Regions from separate parts of the Homo sapiens genome. Here region 2 is linked to region 1. The links come from fine-mapping of genetic effects on gene expression. A gene starts in region 1. The other region holds a variant in brackets. All regions are shown on one strand. Distances are between the middles of the regions. Region 1 holds the start of SLC26A7 (solute carrier family 26 member 7). Region 2 overlaps LRRC69 (leucine rich repeat containing 69).

What was found. PIP is the estimated chance that this variant, and not a neighbour inherited with it, causes the effect.
Region 2: its variant is the best candidate, but not a certain one, in a credible set for the expression of SLC26A7 in spleen (GTEx, PIP 0.69).

What each region holds. Positions count from the first base shown.
Region 1 is chr8:91,244,183-91,253,271 of GRCh38, reverse strand. It overlaps SLC26A7 (solute carrier family 26 member 7), which reads right to left and starts at 3,953. Exons shown (of 19, transcript NM_052832.4): 1 at 3,859-3,953; 2 at 3,428-3,733. The coding sequence starts at 3,620.
Region 2 is chr8:91,127,734-91,136,822 of GRCh38, reverse strand. It overlaps LRRC69 (leucine rich repeat containing 69), which reads right to left. Exons shown (of 8, transcript NM_001129890.2): 4 at 3,518-3,713; 5 at 1,084-1,155. Among named protein-coding and RNA genes, the nearest start is that of LRRC69, 30 kb to the right of the region's middle. The variant T/G (reference allele first, on the strand shown) is at 3,879.

The DNA.
Region 1 (9,089 bases):
AGAAGAAGTCTAGTATAAAAGTGAGGGCATAGTCTCAGGAGCCAGATTACCTGAGTTCAAATCCTACCTCTTCCACTCATTTGCTGTGTGACTTTAGGCAAGTTGTTTGTCCTCTCCCAACTTCAGTTTTGTATATATGTCAAGTGTTCTTACAATACTGCTTGCATCTGTGCCTAAAAATTACTGTTGTTATTATTATAGTTCTGGTTCGAATGGAGGTTACATTCAGTTTGTTTTGAAGACACAGCATTTGAAGTACATTTAGAACATTCTAGGTTAGCATATTTAAATATGTGGATCTCCAAGGTCACTCAGGAACCAAGGCTGCTGATAGAGTCAATGCTACCTCCAATACATAGCTTCCAAATTTGCCTTGGGCATTAATACCTGCCAGCATATAGGGGACATGAGGATCATACATGACTTTTACAGGCTAGGACTGGAAGAAGTATACTTCTGCTCATTTTCCCTTGGCCAAAATATAATCACAGGGCAACACCTAACCTCAAAGAAAGCTGGAAAAGGTAGTCTTGCAGTGTATACATCACATTTTAATGATAATCTGGCTGGTTTTTAAAAATTAATAAATAAATATGTAGATCTCAAGTTGAGAAGAAAGTTTCATTAGCATGAAGGGGGTGATTAGCATCTTTTATGCTTTTAGTGAAGGCCAGGGTTTGAATCTCCAGGACACCAGTGTTTGGTGGGAGGCAAAAAATCTGCAGAGAATCATAAGAAGAGAAGGACAGACAGGTAGCAGGAGAAAAACAAGAGTGGTGTCTAAAAACCAAGAGAATAAGGGATTTCAGAAAGACTGTAGTCAACACAGAAAATGCTACTGATAATAGAAAAGCATCTATATTTAACAATTAGGAAATCTTTAATAAAGTAAAGATTTACTTTATTAAAATAATTTAAAACAGCTTCTTGCTATTTGACATATAGAAAACACTCAAATGAATTTCCATTATCCTTAATTTAAATGCACTCCTTGAGAAAGAAGAACGAAAAACAACTACTAGATTGAAACATAAACATTCTATCTTTGTAGGTCAAGAAACAGTAAATTGGACAATTTTATATAATTCAACTATGCTGAGTAACTGAAAAGCTGCTACAAAAATGGGTAAAGCTAAAAAAAGGTGCTTGAGCCTATTGTTTGCGTTATGATGCAAGAACAAAAATTATCCCTCTTTCTTCTAATTTTCCTTAGAAAATTGAGCTGATAATAATTGCCAATATTGTATTCAGACAAACAAGAGGTAATGATATCTAAATGCCTTCCTTACTCTGTATCCTATTCTAGTTATTTTTCTTGTCACTTTGCCTTTGAATCTAAAAACTGCAGGGATGAAACCTGAATGCAAAAGCAATTTGAAGGGAAGGATAGTCACACCTTTCCAAAGAAATGTCTTCTATTACTAATAACATTGGTGTTATGAAAAGTCTTGTTATTTTGGCAGTGTAGACTATAAAGTGAAAATGTTGAGTGTTGGCTTTGGAATCAAGTCCTGACTCCACTACTTATCAGGTATGACGTCCAGGGAAAATTTCTAACTCTTCTAAACCTCCATTTTCTCCTGTGGAAAATGGAGAGGAGACTGCTGTGTCTTGGGATTCTGTTAGGATAGGGGGAGATAATGTATGTAAGGGTTTAGGGCATTGCCTCTTACAACAAATGGTAGCTTATGGCATTTCACTTTTTAACTGTCTATACGTAGTAGATGAGCATGAAAAAGTTTGAGAAAATTGTTTTTAAAAGAATAGACATTTTAAAAATAATTAGTCTTAAATTTCACAAACAAAAACGTTTTTGTAGTGCAGCCTTATCCATTCACTGGTAGCCTTCCAAGAGAATCAGCAGCCAGATTCATAACTTCCCAAGACACAAGGGCTGAGTATGTGTTGTGCTTCTCATCAGTCTTGGGGCTGGCCAATGTGTCCCTTCATAACCAGTGAAATACATGACTCGTAAAACAAAATCCCTCAAAATCTATACCCAAATAAAAGCCATATAATTAACTACTGAAACTTATACATAAATAGTATCACTAATGATACACCATAGATAACTTTATCTTATCCTCAAATTGTCTTATTAACTTGATATTTTCCAAAGGTAAAAAAAGAAATTATTTTTAAAAACATAATTCTCTTTCATTTTACATTAAATTAAAGCAAAATAAATTTATAGCATGCTGAAACTATCTGGTTAAAAAAAAAATTCATCACTTAAGTTTTCAAAGTACATTGGTATTGTTTCATTTGGAATTTAAAACTGAATAAAAGCAAGTCCAAAAATGCCCAAAGCTGTTATTTACTTTGCATTTTTCTGAAAGATTACTATGCATTTCTATTGGCAAAATGGTCATTAAAAATATAAGACTATTCAGTAAAATGGAATCCTATAAAGTATGACAGTATTATGGATCTTAAAGTCACTAGTGCAGATGTTCCTAATTATACCAAAAACACAAATACACAAACCAGTTTGTTCCAGCTACAGAATAATTTAATTAAAAGAGTGCTTATAATTTAACAGTGTAAATAATAGTTAAAGCCAAGGAGGTAGTGAAACTGCAAGGAAATATAAGCCTGCAGTGTCTATGCCAAGGAAACTGCTCTAAATTCTCAAGGTTCAGAAATTAGTTCCTTTCCTTGCTACAGGTAGAAAATTATTTGAATTAGCCAAGAACTGCAATGGATATATCTTTAAGGCAAACAAATACACACACATGCACACTAGGTCGGTAGCTTTTGCCAATAGAAACACCTATCTAAATCCAGAATATCATTTAGTCTGTTTTGGGGAAAGTTAAAATCAGACTTCTCACCAGTTTAAATATCTTACTGAGAAATAGATGTAGTAGGTAATGTGATACAGAAGTAAATCAGCATAGACAGTAAAACATAAGCTCTCAGGACACACAGGATTCTCTTTGCAAATACCAATCTTGGCAAAGAGCCTCCTTTATGTACAGAAAGCTTTGTTCCTTGTTTATAGCAACTCTCAAGGCTACAACAGGTAATTGTGTGCTGCTAATTAGGTTCCAAAACGATTGTGTTCAAGCCAGGAGTATTTTATAGCTTGATTCAGTGAAAGTAGGCAACTATATCCATAAGATCATGTTATAAAAACTCACACTCCCATAATTACTAATCTTTCACTCTAAAACAGTGTGAATTTTAACAGTGAAAAAATGTAATGTCATTCAAAAGTTTATTCAATGCTTAATAGCTATCAAAATACAGAGGAAAAAAGACAATTAGGAAAACTCTTCTCCAAATATATCCAATATGCTTGTTTCCCCACAGCTAATATCCATTTATTTAGCTAAATTGTTTATTCTAGGTCATAGTATTATTCCAAGGAAGCAAAGTGACATCTACTCTGCATAATACAGGAAACTCAAATGCAATACATTACCTTGGGTCACCTGTTGAACTGCCAACATTATCCCAGACACAGTGTCTGGAAGCAAGTTTTCTTTCAGATTGTAATGTGGTGCCCAATCCAAAATGGGCAGTCGCCTTCTACACCACTGTATAATGTCTTCACACTGGGGGGTATGCATCTTGCTCCAAAGCATGCTTTTCTTTTTCCTCTTTGCTCCTGTCATTTTTCAGATTTCTTCTTGTAGAAGTAAACTTCTCTAAACAAGAAAAAAAATCATTGCAGAACACCTCCTTTCAATGCCAAGCTCCAATTCGTCTGTGGTTTACAATGTCAAAGCTGCCCAGAAAATAAGTAAATAAAAGAGAGAGAGAGAGAGAGATTAACAGAAGCACTTCAATATATGCAGCTGTCTTTTTATGATACAGCTAATTATTCTAGATTTAAAAACTATAGATTAAAACCTTGAATTCTTATCTGAAGGAGAAGTAGTTCCTGTTCATGTAATATTTTTTTCTGGTCTTGGAAAAGTAATGGGTTCAGTGTTAAGTTGGTCTACAGCTCTCTCGCCAGTAATTCCCCTTATATTCACTGTAGTCTTATGTTTTTGGCTGCAATCCCAATGGTTAATGAGGTAGTTCTGGGCGTGTGTTGGAAGTGGGCTGGGCTATGCTAATGAAACCAGGAAATATCCAGCTAGTCCAGTCTCTCTCTACAAGCTGTGCAAAATCATAAAACTGCCAGAGGGATCTATTGTGCAAAATATATTCAGAGAATCCAGCCCTATTTCTTTGAGAGCTATATATTTTCAACATTATCAGATGACTGCCAGTTCTACAAAATTCAGAAACATAACAGGGCATTGCTAAAGGTCCTTACCATTTTTATTCCCTGGCAGATGAGGTTTTCATTCATACAGAAACATTCAGATAGCTACTGCCCAGTCTGGGAAAGGAGTAACTAGTTCTCATAAACAAACTGAAATTTCATCTCATGGGCTAAGAGAATAAGTATCACAATGAGCACATATTTGTGACAGGAGATCTTCCCTGTCTCTGAAACTGTTCATTCAGTTTTCTCTGATGGTTTCTCTAAGTCCTATAATTCATTCTACTGTAACTGAAATTTACTGAGGAATGTTATATGGTTCAAACTATTGTTTGAAGTATCCTTAGCTTTTTTTATGGTGCTGCCTTCTTTTTGTATAACTTTTGGGGGTAGGTGTTCTCTTTTTAATAAGGGGTGTTACATTTTATAATAGAACAGACTGTCAAAGATTTTTATTTTATGATCATTTTGCTTAGCCTCCAAAAGAAAAAGAAAAACTTAAATCTATGAACTGTGCCATTGGAATTAAACCAAAAAGGCAACATACTAACTAAAATTGTGTAGCCAAGGAAAAGAATACCATGTATATAGTTTGCTGAGTCCTTTTTAATGCCCATTTGTTTGGAGAATAGAAATCTGATTTCTGGAAGCCTTTATAATAACAAAGTACTTGGATCCCTCCTGCTGCACTTTTTCCCTTTGTTTTTAAATTAAAGTGAAGAGTTGCTCTCCATCTTCTAAAGATGACATCTCTAGCTTTGTGTCTGTGCAAAAATACCTTTCTTTTTAAATCCAACGAAGAGACGCAGCGGGGTGGGGGGGAATTTATTTATACTTACAAAATAGAAACTGCTTTGTTTGTCCAACTGTTTTTACATTATATTAAATTTCTAAACCATTCAATAGTTCAGGTTTGGGGCCTGTAGAGAGAGCCCCATTTAGAGACCAAGTTGTAGCATTTTAATCCTATCCTCTTGGTATGAGAGATGAACTCACCAAATAATTGTAAATTCATGCTTGAAACATTACATTGGTTTTCCTTCACAAAAAGCAATCTTTACTTTTGTTTTATATACTCCATTTATTATATACGCAAAGAAATTCAGAAGCTATACATACACTGATTATGTATTACCTTTATAATAAAAATAAACACAAGATTTTTTTTCAAATCCTATCTAGGTCATAAATTCTAACGTATGTTAACAATATGAGAAAAATAATTGAAAGCTTAACTGAAATCACCAATCAACATCTATCATTTGTGTAATTTCAATCATTTTTAAATTTGTGTTAAATTCCATAACAAAAAATTCACATGAACAGGATTTTATGAATTGAAGGTAAATAGAAGTACCTAAATCATATAGCACCAGCAATTGTTCTAAAACATTTCAAGACCAAGAGAGGGTAGAAATTAACAAAATAGTTCTGAAATCTCTCAATTTAAAAATTTCTTAAAATTAGAATGAATCTTTCCTAAAAATCTTTTTTGAAGCTTAAATCTGGAATTCCAATTCCAGATGTTTTTTTTCAATTTCCATGTGCATACATATTATTTAAAACATGTCAAACCAGAGCATGGATCATGCCTATTTATAATCAGCAATGCCAGAAAGAAAGAAAAACATTATGAGGAAATTTATTCACACACATAAGATTCTCAGAGTAACTTGAACAGCCTGCAAAATTCAAGAATGCTAAGTGTATTCATTCAAAAGTTTCAATGACTAAAAGTAGCTTACAGTTCAACAGTATGTACCATCTATATGGAATATCTCTTCCTAAACATCTGGGATAATACCTATACAAATAAAAAGATGAAATTGTTATCTTCTACTTCATACATGGATTAACAGAAAGATTTTTTGTAAAATCTCATTTTGATTACATCACTGATATGTTTGAATTTCAGTTATCTCCAATATCAAACTTAAACTCATTAGTGGAAGCAATGCAGTCCTTCTCTGCTCCCCTTCCCACCTTCTACTCACTAGCTTCTCATTAACTCTAATTCAGCAAGTTTTTATTAAACAATGATAATTTGCTAGACTCTGTGTGAAGTGCTACAGAAAAGGGAAGGAAAAGGAGTAGATACTACCTCTGTATTCTAGGAGTTACTATTTAATGAAGAAAATCAAAACATGTATAACTAACTCAAGGCAGAATGTGATAAATAACAGTCAAATCACCCAATAAGTCATACGGGAGCTCAGAGGATGGAGAGTGGCATTCCCTTTGCGGGGAAAAACAAAAGTATTTCAGCCTGCTGAGACTCTCTGTTGTAGCAGGTAATTATACTCATGATGTCCTGGCCATTACTTTTCCGTTTTGTTTTTTTTTTTTTTTAAGACAGAGTCTCGCTCTTAACTCCCAGGCCGGAGTGCGATGGCACAATCTCCACCCACTGCAACCTCCACCTTCCAGGTTCAAGCGATTCTCCTGCTTCAGCCTCCGGAATAGCTGGGATTACAGGTGCACTAGTCTATTTCTATATTAATGGCCCTAGTTACATGGTATTTTACATCTTCTAAACATTTACTCAATGTTTACCTCTTCCACGAAACTTTCCCTGGTTTCTCCACAATTTTATTTATGCTGTGTAATGAACATTCAGGTAACTCTCAGTGTATTTGTGTGTATAGAGCTGTAGTCATTTTCACTGTTTATTGGTTTTCCTCCTTTAAATCTATTTCATGTGATTTTTATCCAGTCTGACTCATGAGATTGTACATTCCTTTTGAGTAGGGATTATTCACATAAATTGCTTTGCTTCTTTTTTAGAATTTAGCAGAAGGAGCTGCAGACATTGGATTCACACAGTAAGTATTAACATACAAATGTTCATCCAAAAGTACCCAAAAATCATTTAGTCTATCTCATCCTGGTTTCCAGGTTGTGCTCTTAAAAAATCAGATAACCAGGTGGAGAGAAAATGAGAATAAAGGTTCTAGGAGAAAAATAAGATGAGATTTTATCTTTGTTTGCTCAGCTTCTCCCAGTTCTCTCACAATCTATGGAAAGTTCTTTTTTCAACACAGTTATTTTTTCTAATATTATAAAATCTGGAGCACAAAGAGAAGAAAAACCAGATGGGAAATGCGGAAGAAATAAAGGAGACAAAGGATAGACAGACACCCTCATGGGTTGGGGCTTCAGAGAGAATTTGTAGAGGGTTGGCATGTGAGGATCTCTGCGGCAATTATGAAGTGTGAGGGAATTTGGCCAGGCTCAAGTGAAGAAACAGACTTTTGAGAAATGCTGTGCAGGTTATAAACTGAATCACATTTAATGGTTTCTGAGAGACATTAGTAAAGAGTGAAATTCTCTCGCAGTATTTTTGGTTTTGACATGAGGCTTCTTTGAATGTGGTCTCTGTGGAGATTGGGACACCTAAGACACTGATTTATATCGAGGTTACAATGAAAAGTATAGATCAGACATTGGAAGTTATCAACCCCAAACTCATACCTACCTCAGGAAGTTGATCTACAGCATTTCTAAGAAGACACTGTAAAAGGCTCCCATCTGAGAGGGAAAACGAAGGCTGATACTAAGGAAGGCCATACTCTACCCACCAAGCCACATAGCTGGCATGGGGATACGTCCACACAATTGCGTAATTTGTATCAAGTCTACCAAAGTACTTTTTTTCTTAATTTACCCAAAGTTTCATACAGGCACATCCCTGAATCCAACCTCTGCTTTAATTCTTCCGATTTCTAAAATTAAAAGGCCTAGAAAAATAACCGATTCCAATTTTCTAACATTGTGATTGTTAGAACTTTTTTTCCCCAATTATTGAGGCAAAATCTGCTACTTAAGAGCCCAATCCCAATGACACATAACACATAATTAGTTCCTCAGCTTCAGGCCTAATTAATTTAGTGTAAACCTCTAAAGAGTTCTGATATTCTATGGTGCTGTTTATTTAAAAAATACTCTTACATTCAAATATGGACGCACATATATAAGTTAATTACAGTCCTGAACAGTGCCGTTAATATTTTTCTCATGATAGGCCAACCAGTACAGTAGAGTGAGCAAAGTTCTATGTTCTCAACAATGATTGCCAACATGTCTTACTTTGCTTTCTTTGGATTAAACTTTCCAATAGTTTCTTTAGTGTGTTTTTTTCTTTCTGCTATTATTTCATATTCTGTGATCTATTTTGATACATAATAGGAGCCAAAAGAATATAAATCAAGTGAAGTCACAAAATGCCTAGGGGCCAGGTGCAGTGGCTCATACCTATAATCCTAGCACTTTGGGAGGCAGGGGTGGGAGGATAACTTGAGCACAGGAGTTTGAGACCAGTCTGGGAAACATAGTGAGACCTCATCTCTACAAAATAATAATAATAATAATAATTGAAAAATTTAGCTGGGCATGGTGGCTCATGCCTGTGGTCCCAGCTACTCAAGAGGCTGAGGCAGGAGGATCACTTGAACTCAGGAGGTCGGGGCTGCAGTGAGCTGTGATCATGCCACTGCATTCCAGCCTGGGCAACAGAGCAAGATCCTCTCTCAAAAACAAACACAAAAAAGCAGCAAGAAAAAAAAAAATGCCTAGGGAAAGAATCACTTATATATTCAAACACATTTTACAATAATATAAGACATTTTCAAAGAAATCATAAAAAAAGAATGAAAAGAGGGAAAGAGGGGAGGAGAAAAAGGAAGAAGAAAATGAGAAAGAAGAAAAAGGAAAAGAAGAAGAAAAGGAAGAGGAGAAAGGAAGAGAAGAAAAGGCAAGGCAAAGGAGAAAGCAGTAAAAAATAATTAATTGAGGATTAATAAAAGCCTTGTCTCATTTCTGACTAACAACTGATAAAAAATAAGTAAAATAAACTATGGCCGTATCATGG
Region 2 (9,089 bases), 120 kb after region 1:
GTAAAAGGACAAATATCTGGTTCCACTTATCTGGTACCTAGAGTACCTAGAGTAGTCAAATTCAGAGATATATAGTAGATATGTGGTTGCCATGAAGGGGGGAAAGATCTTATTTCAAAGTATTTATAGGAACTTCTAAAATAGGTGTACAAAGGGAATGGGGAGTTGGAGTTGAATGGATACAGAGTTTCAGCTGGAGAAGATGAACAGGTTCTAGAGATGGATAATGCTGATGGTTGTGCAACAATGTGAAAGTACTTAGTACCGTGGACTATACAAGTAGAAATGATTAAAATGGTAAATTTTATGTTGTGTATATTTTGCCACAATTTAAAAACTATACTTTTTTCTAAAACATAGACTTTACACTCATTTTTTTATATTTGAATTACCTTCAGTATAAAATATTGCTCTAGGAGGTAAAAAAAGACTGAAACCTCAATTTAGAGGGGATAAATCAGGAAAAATAATTAATGGGTCAACAACTATTCATTGAATACCTTCTGGATAGATGGACTTCTCATTATTACCATGAATGTTTAAGCATGTTCAATTGGATATAAAAATGCAATAGGAAAAACTGACATTTCTTTCTCAAAAGTTAGGAGTTGCCAAGACAAACGGTTTCTCCATATTTGAAATAAAATGAGGTCAAAATTCATTTTCAAATGAGAAAAAAGTGCATTTTTCATTGTTTATGGCCTAAAAATGACTAACAAAAGTGTCACCTTTGGATTAATTACAAGGGATAAAAATTTATGCTCCAGAAAGTAATATTTTCAAAAAGCCAGAGGTGACCAAAAGCAGTGTGTAATAACCAAAAAATTTAATCATAGCTGATATATTAAAATATTTGTGATAGCAATCAGAGTTAACTTAGTTCAAACAAGTTCAGCAGGCACAGAACACAAAGAAAAAAACAGGAGAGAACAGGTTTTGAAATTCTAAAAGCAAATCTTTGAGTCATTTGTATAATTTAAGGTTTCAATTACTACAGGTTTTACTGTCTGCCCATATTTTTTCTATTCCCAATAGCATAAACAAAATTATTTTTCAATTATAATGGAAGTTGACTCTACTTACTCCTGATGGAAATATCTGAATAATATTTCCAGCTATGTCTAGGATTCTTAGTTTTTTAAGATCACAAAGTTCCTGTGTCAGAAAACAGAAGAGAGAGATTTTTTAAATCTAATATTTAAAATCATAAGGAAAATCATAAATTTTTTTAAAGCTCCAACATGATGAAGGTGGCCATCTTTTCTAATCACTGTACTGACCAATTCTTCAGCACATCTTCCCGAGCAGACCCCCATATCCTGGACTGCCAGCTCTTTGAATTCTTCATTTCCTCTGACCACTCCAGGGCAACATAACATGGCCACTGTGAGTTACACTACATCTAGGTTGAAATCTCACCTCTGGCAGGTACTATAACTATGGGCAAATTTCTTAATTGCTTTGTACTTCAATTTCTTTATTTGTAAAATGAAAATGCTAATAGAAGCCCTTAAGTCATACGGTTGTTGAATGGATTACTTAAGTTACTGAAAGAGCTAACAGCTAGAGGCTGTCTGCAATCCCCATTCCCTACAGCTAGGCAGCAAATCCTTGAAGGGAGTCCTCTTCTTAAGTCCTACATAGTCTTCCATTGCCATGATACTCTCCTTTGTATTGTTTTAGCTGCAGAGATTTTCAGACTCCAATGTGTTCCTTCAGTATCTCATGTTATGATATAAGGGCTTCCACCCTACTTGAAAACACTTCATAGCATTACTTCCGTTGCTGTCGACTCTTGCATTTTCATTTGTTTGTTTTTGCTGCCATGACTGCCACTATTATTGCTGTTGATATTTGTTGCTGTCTTTTTCAAATCTTTGCATGTGTATACCCCTCACAAGTATTCAATGAAGGTTTAAAAACTCACAAATAGGCAAGGACAAAGTTGTGCTATGAGAATGAGAAGTGTTACGAAGGGTTAAGGAAACAGTGATATATGGAAAATTTGGTATTAGGAGGTCAGGAAAGGCTTCCTGGAAAAAGTGAAGTTTAAGCTGAGATTCTCTGAGTTATTTGGAACAAATGATGTTCCATTAAGAGCAAACAGTTGTTTGGGATAGAACTATAAGAAGTCTAGTGTGATGGTTAATTTTAGGTGTCAACTTGACTGGATTAAGGAATACCTACAATGCTGGTAAAGCTTTATTTTGGGTGTGTCTGTGTGAGGTTGTTTCTAGAGGAGATGGGTGTGTGAGTCAGTAGAAGGGGTGGGAAAGATACATGTTCACTGTTGCTGGGCACCATCCTATCAGTTAGTGACTTGATGAAAAAAAAAATGTAATTTCCTCTCTCTCCTGGAGCTAGGACACTTCTTCTTCTGCCCTTGGACCTCAGAACGCTGGGCTCTCCAGCCTTTAGACTCTAAGATTTACACCAGTACCCCTCCCCTCCAGCCACCACCACAACCTCCCAGTAATCAGGCCTTTGACCTCCAACTGAGAATTACACCGTTTGCTTCCCTGGTTCTGAGGCTTTCAGAGTTGGACTCAGCCACATTACCAGCACTCCAGGGTCTTCAGCTTGCAGATAGCCTGCTGTAGGACTTCTCAGTCTCCATAATTATGAATACCATCAACTACTTGCTATCCTCCTGCCCTGTCACTTCCTGCTAGTGCCTCTCATCTGCCATATCCAAGAGGAAACCAGAGGACAAAGAAGTTCACTGCTGCCCACACAGGTCAGTCTCCCAAGCAGAAGGCAGGACAGAAAGTGAATATGAAGGAAAAAAGGAGAGCCAGTACATATTCCAAAGCCAAAATGAACTTGTATTTTGTTCTGTATACATCGTTACCAGATAAAATATATAATGCTCACTTAAATTGAAATATCAAGGCTGGGTGCGGTGGCTCACGCCTATAATCCCAGCACTTTGGGAGGCCGAGGTGGGCGGATCACGAGATCAGGAGTTTGAGACCAGCCTGACCAGCATGGTGAAGCCCCGTCTCTACTAAATTATAAAAATCAGCCGGGCATGGTGGTGTCTGCCTGTAATCCCAGCTACTCAGGAGGCTGAGGCAGGAGAATCACCTGAACCCGGGATGTGGAGGTTGCAGTGAGCCAAGATTGTGCCACTGCACTCCAGCCTAGGCAACAGAGCAAGACTCTGTCTCAAAAAGAAGAAAGAAAGAAATACCAAACAATAAATAGGTTTTTTAGTCTATTCCATGCAATATTTGCAACATACTTATAGTAAAAAATTTAATCATTGCTTATCTGGAATTCAAATTTCAGTGAGCATTCTATATTTGTATTTACTAAATCTGGCAGCCCTAGCTATGTGGGATAATTCAAATTATAGCCTTCTTCTGTCATAGGGATTTGGGAACTGACTACATTTAATCTGAGAGAAAGCAAGTGGTGGCTTATACTCAGATACCCAAATCTAATCTATAACCACCTCCCATCATGTTGAGTTCTTCTCCAACAGCAAACTACTGTGGTTCCATGTTTTGCTTACCTCCGGCAAAACTCCAATGTTGTTTCTGGCTAGCAAAAGCTTCTGAAGCTTCTTCAAGAATTTAATCTCTTCAGGTATGCATATCAGCTGATTGTAGTTAAGTTGAAGTTCAACAAGATTCTCAAGAAAACAAAGTTCTCTAGGAATGCTGGCTAGTTGGTTATAATTTATACTCATATAAGTAAGACTTTTTAATCTAAAAAAAAAAAAACACCAAAGTATATGAATGAAACTCACAAGAATAAGAGTCCACTATATAGGCCCAACTTAGCAGAAGCCATGTGTCAATTTATTTTTTGTAGCTCTTCTGAGCTTACTTCAGTCAAGTGTTTACAACTATTGTGATCATGAGTATAAAAAG[T/G]TTTTGCTGAAATTTAATTTTTAAAGATCTTTTGTAATCAGATGGCTTATGTTAAAAGTATGTTAGGTAATCAAAACCTAGATTTCAGAAAAAGAAAATTATATTTCCTTTCTTTATACATATACATTGGCCATACCCAAGAGAAAGCTAGAGGACAAGGAGAACACGGACATACCTATGTATATAGATCAATACAGGAACAGGCATAAGCATACATAGACATAAATATACCTAGTACCAAATAGATATGAGTACTGCTCAATTGCTGTGGAAGTTCAAAGATGAATCAGCCACAAATTCTGCCCTTTTGGATGCCCTGGTTTAGGAGATATTAAATAGAGCCACAAACTGAGAACAGCAAATGCCATTGGCTAAGGAGAAAAAGGTTAAGGAAATTTGAGTCTGTAATTGCAGATATGGTTCCTGAAGCATATTGCAAGTTTTTCTAAAGAACTGACATTTTGAATTTGGCCCTGAATAAAAGAACTTATAAAATAGGGCAATAAGAGGGAATAGTAAGCTAAGAAAAATATTATGAATAAGGAAGCAGAAGGGAATTAACATTACTAAGCACAACTACATGCCTGTGCATTAAATTTAATAATCATCAACATGACTCTGAGGTTGGAATTACTACTCTTATTTTAAAAGTGAGGAAAATAAAGCATTAGAGGCAGTAAATAAATTCCCCAAGTTACCTATCTAGTAGGTAACAATGTCAAAATTCTAATGCAGGTGTGTCTGTTTGCAAAGCTAAGAGTGAAAACATGTAATGATCTCAAGGTTGAAGTGTGTTAAGATTGAAGTAATGTAAGAATGAGGGAACTAAATTTTTAGGCAGTTGAAAATGGGAGACTGGAGGTTAGGAAGTCATCAGTGCTAGCAAAGGGAATTTTGAGGATTCTACAGATCTCTCCGTACATAGTAGAAGCCATATGAATACCTGGGATTGATAGGAAAAACAACAAAAGAAAATGGGCAGAGAGAAGAGAGAGGAAGCCAACAGAAAGATTCTTGAGAAATATAAACAACTGACCATTAAAAATTAAAGGCACCCAGCAAAGTTATGAACACAGAAGTAGAAGAAGAACCAGATTAGCAAGGAATCTCTGAAGGTGTGAGAAAAGAAAATTTCAAAATTAAAGAGATGGTCAAAAGTTTAAATGTTAAAGAGAGATAATCCAAACTAACAAACAAAACTAGTAGAAATAATGCCGAGTCACAAACTACAAAGTCAATATTTAAAAAATCTATTGTATCTCCATATTGTAGCCACAAACAATTGGAAAATAAAAAGTTTAAGATTTCCATTTATAGTAATGTATAAAAAAACCTTCATGAAATAGTTAAGAGTACATATAACAAAAGACATGAGGGACCTCTACACTGAAAACTATAAATTATGAATGAGAGAATGTAAAGGGGCTTTAAATAAAAGTAGAGATATATTATATTCAGGTATAGAAAAGCAAAATATTGCTAAGATATCAACTTTTTAATATTGATCTATAGATTCAATAATAGATTCAAATACAAATTTTGACAGCTTTTTTTGTATAAGACTTGACTTGGGCTGGGTGCTGTGGCTCATGGCTGTAAACCCATAACTTTGGGAGGCCAAGGTGGAAGGATTGCTTGAGCCCAGGAGTGTAAGACCAGCCTGGAAAACATAGTGAGACCCCATCTTAAACAAAACAAAAAAAAAAAAAGACAAATCAATTTTAAAATTTATATGGAAATTGAAAGGACCTAGAATAGCCAAACTATTATAAAGAATAAAATCAAAAGACTCACTTTACCTGATTTCAAAACTTACAATGCAGCTACAGCAATCAAGATAATCAAGATCATATGGTATTGGAGAAATGACAGTGCTATGGTCTGAATATTTGTGTCTCTTCAAAATTCATATGTTAAAATCTAATCTCCAATGTGATGGTATTATGAGATGGGGCCTTTGGGAGATGATTAGGTCATGATGATGGGGTAAACCTCATAAATGTAATTAATGTCCTTACAAAAGGCCCCAGAGAGCTCCTTGCCCCTTCTACCATGTGAGGACACAGTGAGAAAGGTGCCACTCTAAGAACCAGGAAGTAGACCCTCACCAGACATCACATCTGCCAGCACCTTGGTCTTCACTTCCCAACTTCCAGAACTATGAGAAATAAATTTCTGTTTTACTCCTAGAAATTTAAATGAAAATGAAATTAAACATGTTTACAAAAAGATTTGTACAATAATGTTTATTGTAGCTTAATTCATAATAGCCCTAAACTGGAAATAACCCAAATGTACATCAATAGGAGAAAAGACAAATGATTTAGGGCATATTCACGCAATGAAATGCTACTCAGAATAAACAAAAACTGCCAGGCATGGTGGCTCACGCCTACAATCCCAACATTTTGGGAGGCCGAGGCAGGCAGATCACTTGAGGTCAGGAGTTCGAGACCAGCCTGGCAGACATGGCGAAACCCCATCTCTACTAAAAATATGAAAATTAACTGGGTGTGGTGGCAGGCACCTGTAATACCAGCTACTCGGGAGGCTGAGGCAGGAGAATCATTTGAACCTGGAAGGCGGAGGTTGCAGTGAGCCGAGATCATGCCATTGCACTCCAGCCTGGGTGAGTAGGGCCAGACTCTGTCTCAATAAAAAACAAAAACAAAAACAAAAAACAAACCAATGAACTACTAATAAATGCAACAGTTATATGAGTCTCAAAAAATATGCTAAGCAAAAGAAGACAGACACAAAAATGTATATACCATATTCCATTTATTTAGTTCTAGGATTGGTAAAACTAATTTGTAAAGAACACAGAAATCAGAATATTGATTGCTTATGAGAGGTAAGAATTCACTGGAAGGGTGTATGAGGAAATTTCTGGGCTGAAGAAAATGTTCTACATCTTATTGGTGTGCGTACATTTGTCAAAATGCATTGAATAGTACAAAATGCATTGAATAGTTTTATGTAATTTTTATTCAGCAGAAAAAAAAGGCCATTATATTTGACTATGTAAAGGACAGTAACGACTTTTGAAAATGATCTAAGGTAGAATGGAGAAGACAGAAGAGAATTTACAATGTGTTACACAGGAAGCAAAAGCAAAAGACACGGGACTTCAGAGAGAGATGACAAGGAAGCAAGAGCGAGAGGAAGGAAAGAAATAGAACAATGGAGAGAAAGATGCTGAAAAGAAGGAAATTGAGGGAGCTCAAATTTCTCAGGATAATAGGAAGTGAAGTTCTTTGCAGTATAAAGGGTCAAAGAAGGACAACTCAGCACTGAAATGGAGTAAAAATGTGTGGAGCAGGTCCTGTGGGGAAAGGGATGGGGAATTTTCTTCATTAATCATTTTTATAATCATTTTTATTATCATTTTTATTGATTCTACTCTGATTTACTATATCATGGGAGTTGGTTTTAACTTTTTTGTTCTTTCAAGGCAATAAAATGAGCTCAGATCCTATTGTTCATTTGTCCATCATTCATTTGTGTGAGTAAAGAGCAGGGAGAGAAACAAATATCTGCCATTGTTCCCGATTCCACAAAGCAGGGAGATGTCCTACTTTTCCAAAGAAAATCTATAGGAGATACACTTGTAGATTCTCCCTGACATCTGTCTTCCCCAGGAGATTGAAGAACAACTTCACTGACTGACGAATTTGGAGAAAGAACTGAGCCTGCTGACTTAGTCCCTTGCTCTCTCTCTCTGTCTTCCAGACTCATTCTGTCACCAGGATGCCCATGCTGTCCTCTTCCTGTGCCTGTGCAGCGCTGTCCATGACAGAGCTGTTTAGGTGTAAAACTCTTACCTGCCCAAATTTGACTCCAAGTCCATGAACTGATATTCTGTAGTTTAAATGAGCCAAAAACAAAACTCCTTTTCCCTCTCCTAAGTTCTAAATAAATTGAGAAATAAGATATGGAATTTAGAGAGAAGGAAATCAAACATCAGCACAGAGCTGACATGATCACTCTGAGTCCCTGCTAGCCCTCCTCTGCATTAAATATACCACCCCATTCACAGCCTTTCCTGCTGAGGCTGCTGCTTACTTCATGGCAGGGCAAGAGGAGAATGCCAAACTACATATGCTCAATGCTTTGCCCAAATCCACTGAGAAGTCATTCCTTTGTCTCTGGAAATCAGTGAACAAAGGGAACAGAAAGAAGCTAGAATAAAAATAACAACCAATAATAATAAAAGCTAACATCCATTGAGCACTTACTCAACCCTAATACCTTTTATGTCCAAGGCTCAACCCTAAATATATTGTATGAATTTGCTTAACTGTCAAAACAATCCGATTTATTTTCTGAAAATACTATCATCATCCTCATTTTGCAGGTGAAGATGTTAAGATATAGGAAAGTGAAGAAACTTTCCCAGGCTCAGAAATGGAATTCTACTTAGAGAGATGACCAATTAATTGATATCTAGTAGGATATGGCCAGAATATAGACAATCCAGAGTTAACTATAAGACAGAATAGACCTATACACTCTGCAATCCTACTTTCTTCAGTGAAAGCATTCTTTCATCTTTCTAACATATTCCCTTAGATTTACGATTCCTTGAATACTGTAATTTGTATTCCAAACAGAGATAAGTGTATGAAATTGTGAAATCATAACGTGTTATAGCTGCAAAAACTTTGAGGTTCATCTATTCAAAATTCTTTCTTTAGAGATGAGAAGGCAGCAGTTCAAAGTAGTTAAATTACTGGTCCAAAGGCATAAATCTAGTTGCACAGAGATATGCCCTGAACCTCATTCATGAGATCTCCCAAGGGATTTTTAAAATTATATCATCATCAATATATACATCGATTGATAAGCTGAATTTGTAAAAAAGCAAGCAGACAACTATTAGCATGGCATTTTCATTGCTGCAAATATTTATCTTTTATAGAAATTAGATTGATTCAATTCTTTTCTAGTTGCTCTGACTTAAAATATTGCTTTCCTTATAAAAATATATTTGGAAAAAATAATACATTGGCCAGAGGTATAGACAAGTAAATTGGAATAGATGTTAGGTGCTGCAGAAAGCACTGTGTTGAGGACTGTTCAAAGTTTTGTATTCTCTTTTAAAACCCTGGATGCTGCTCTTGCTCTGTGACACATCTGTTTCTGCTCAACAGGCAATAAAGGGAGTCTCCAAAGTAAACCTGAACAGAGTTCTCTCTCCATCTGTCAGAG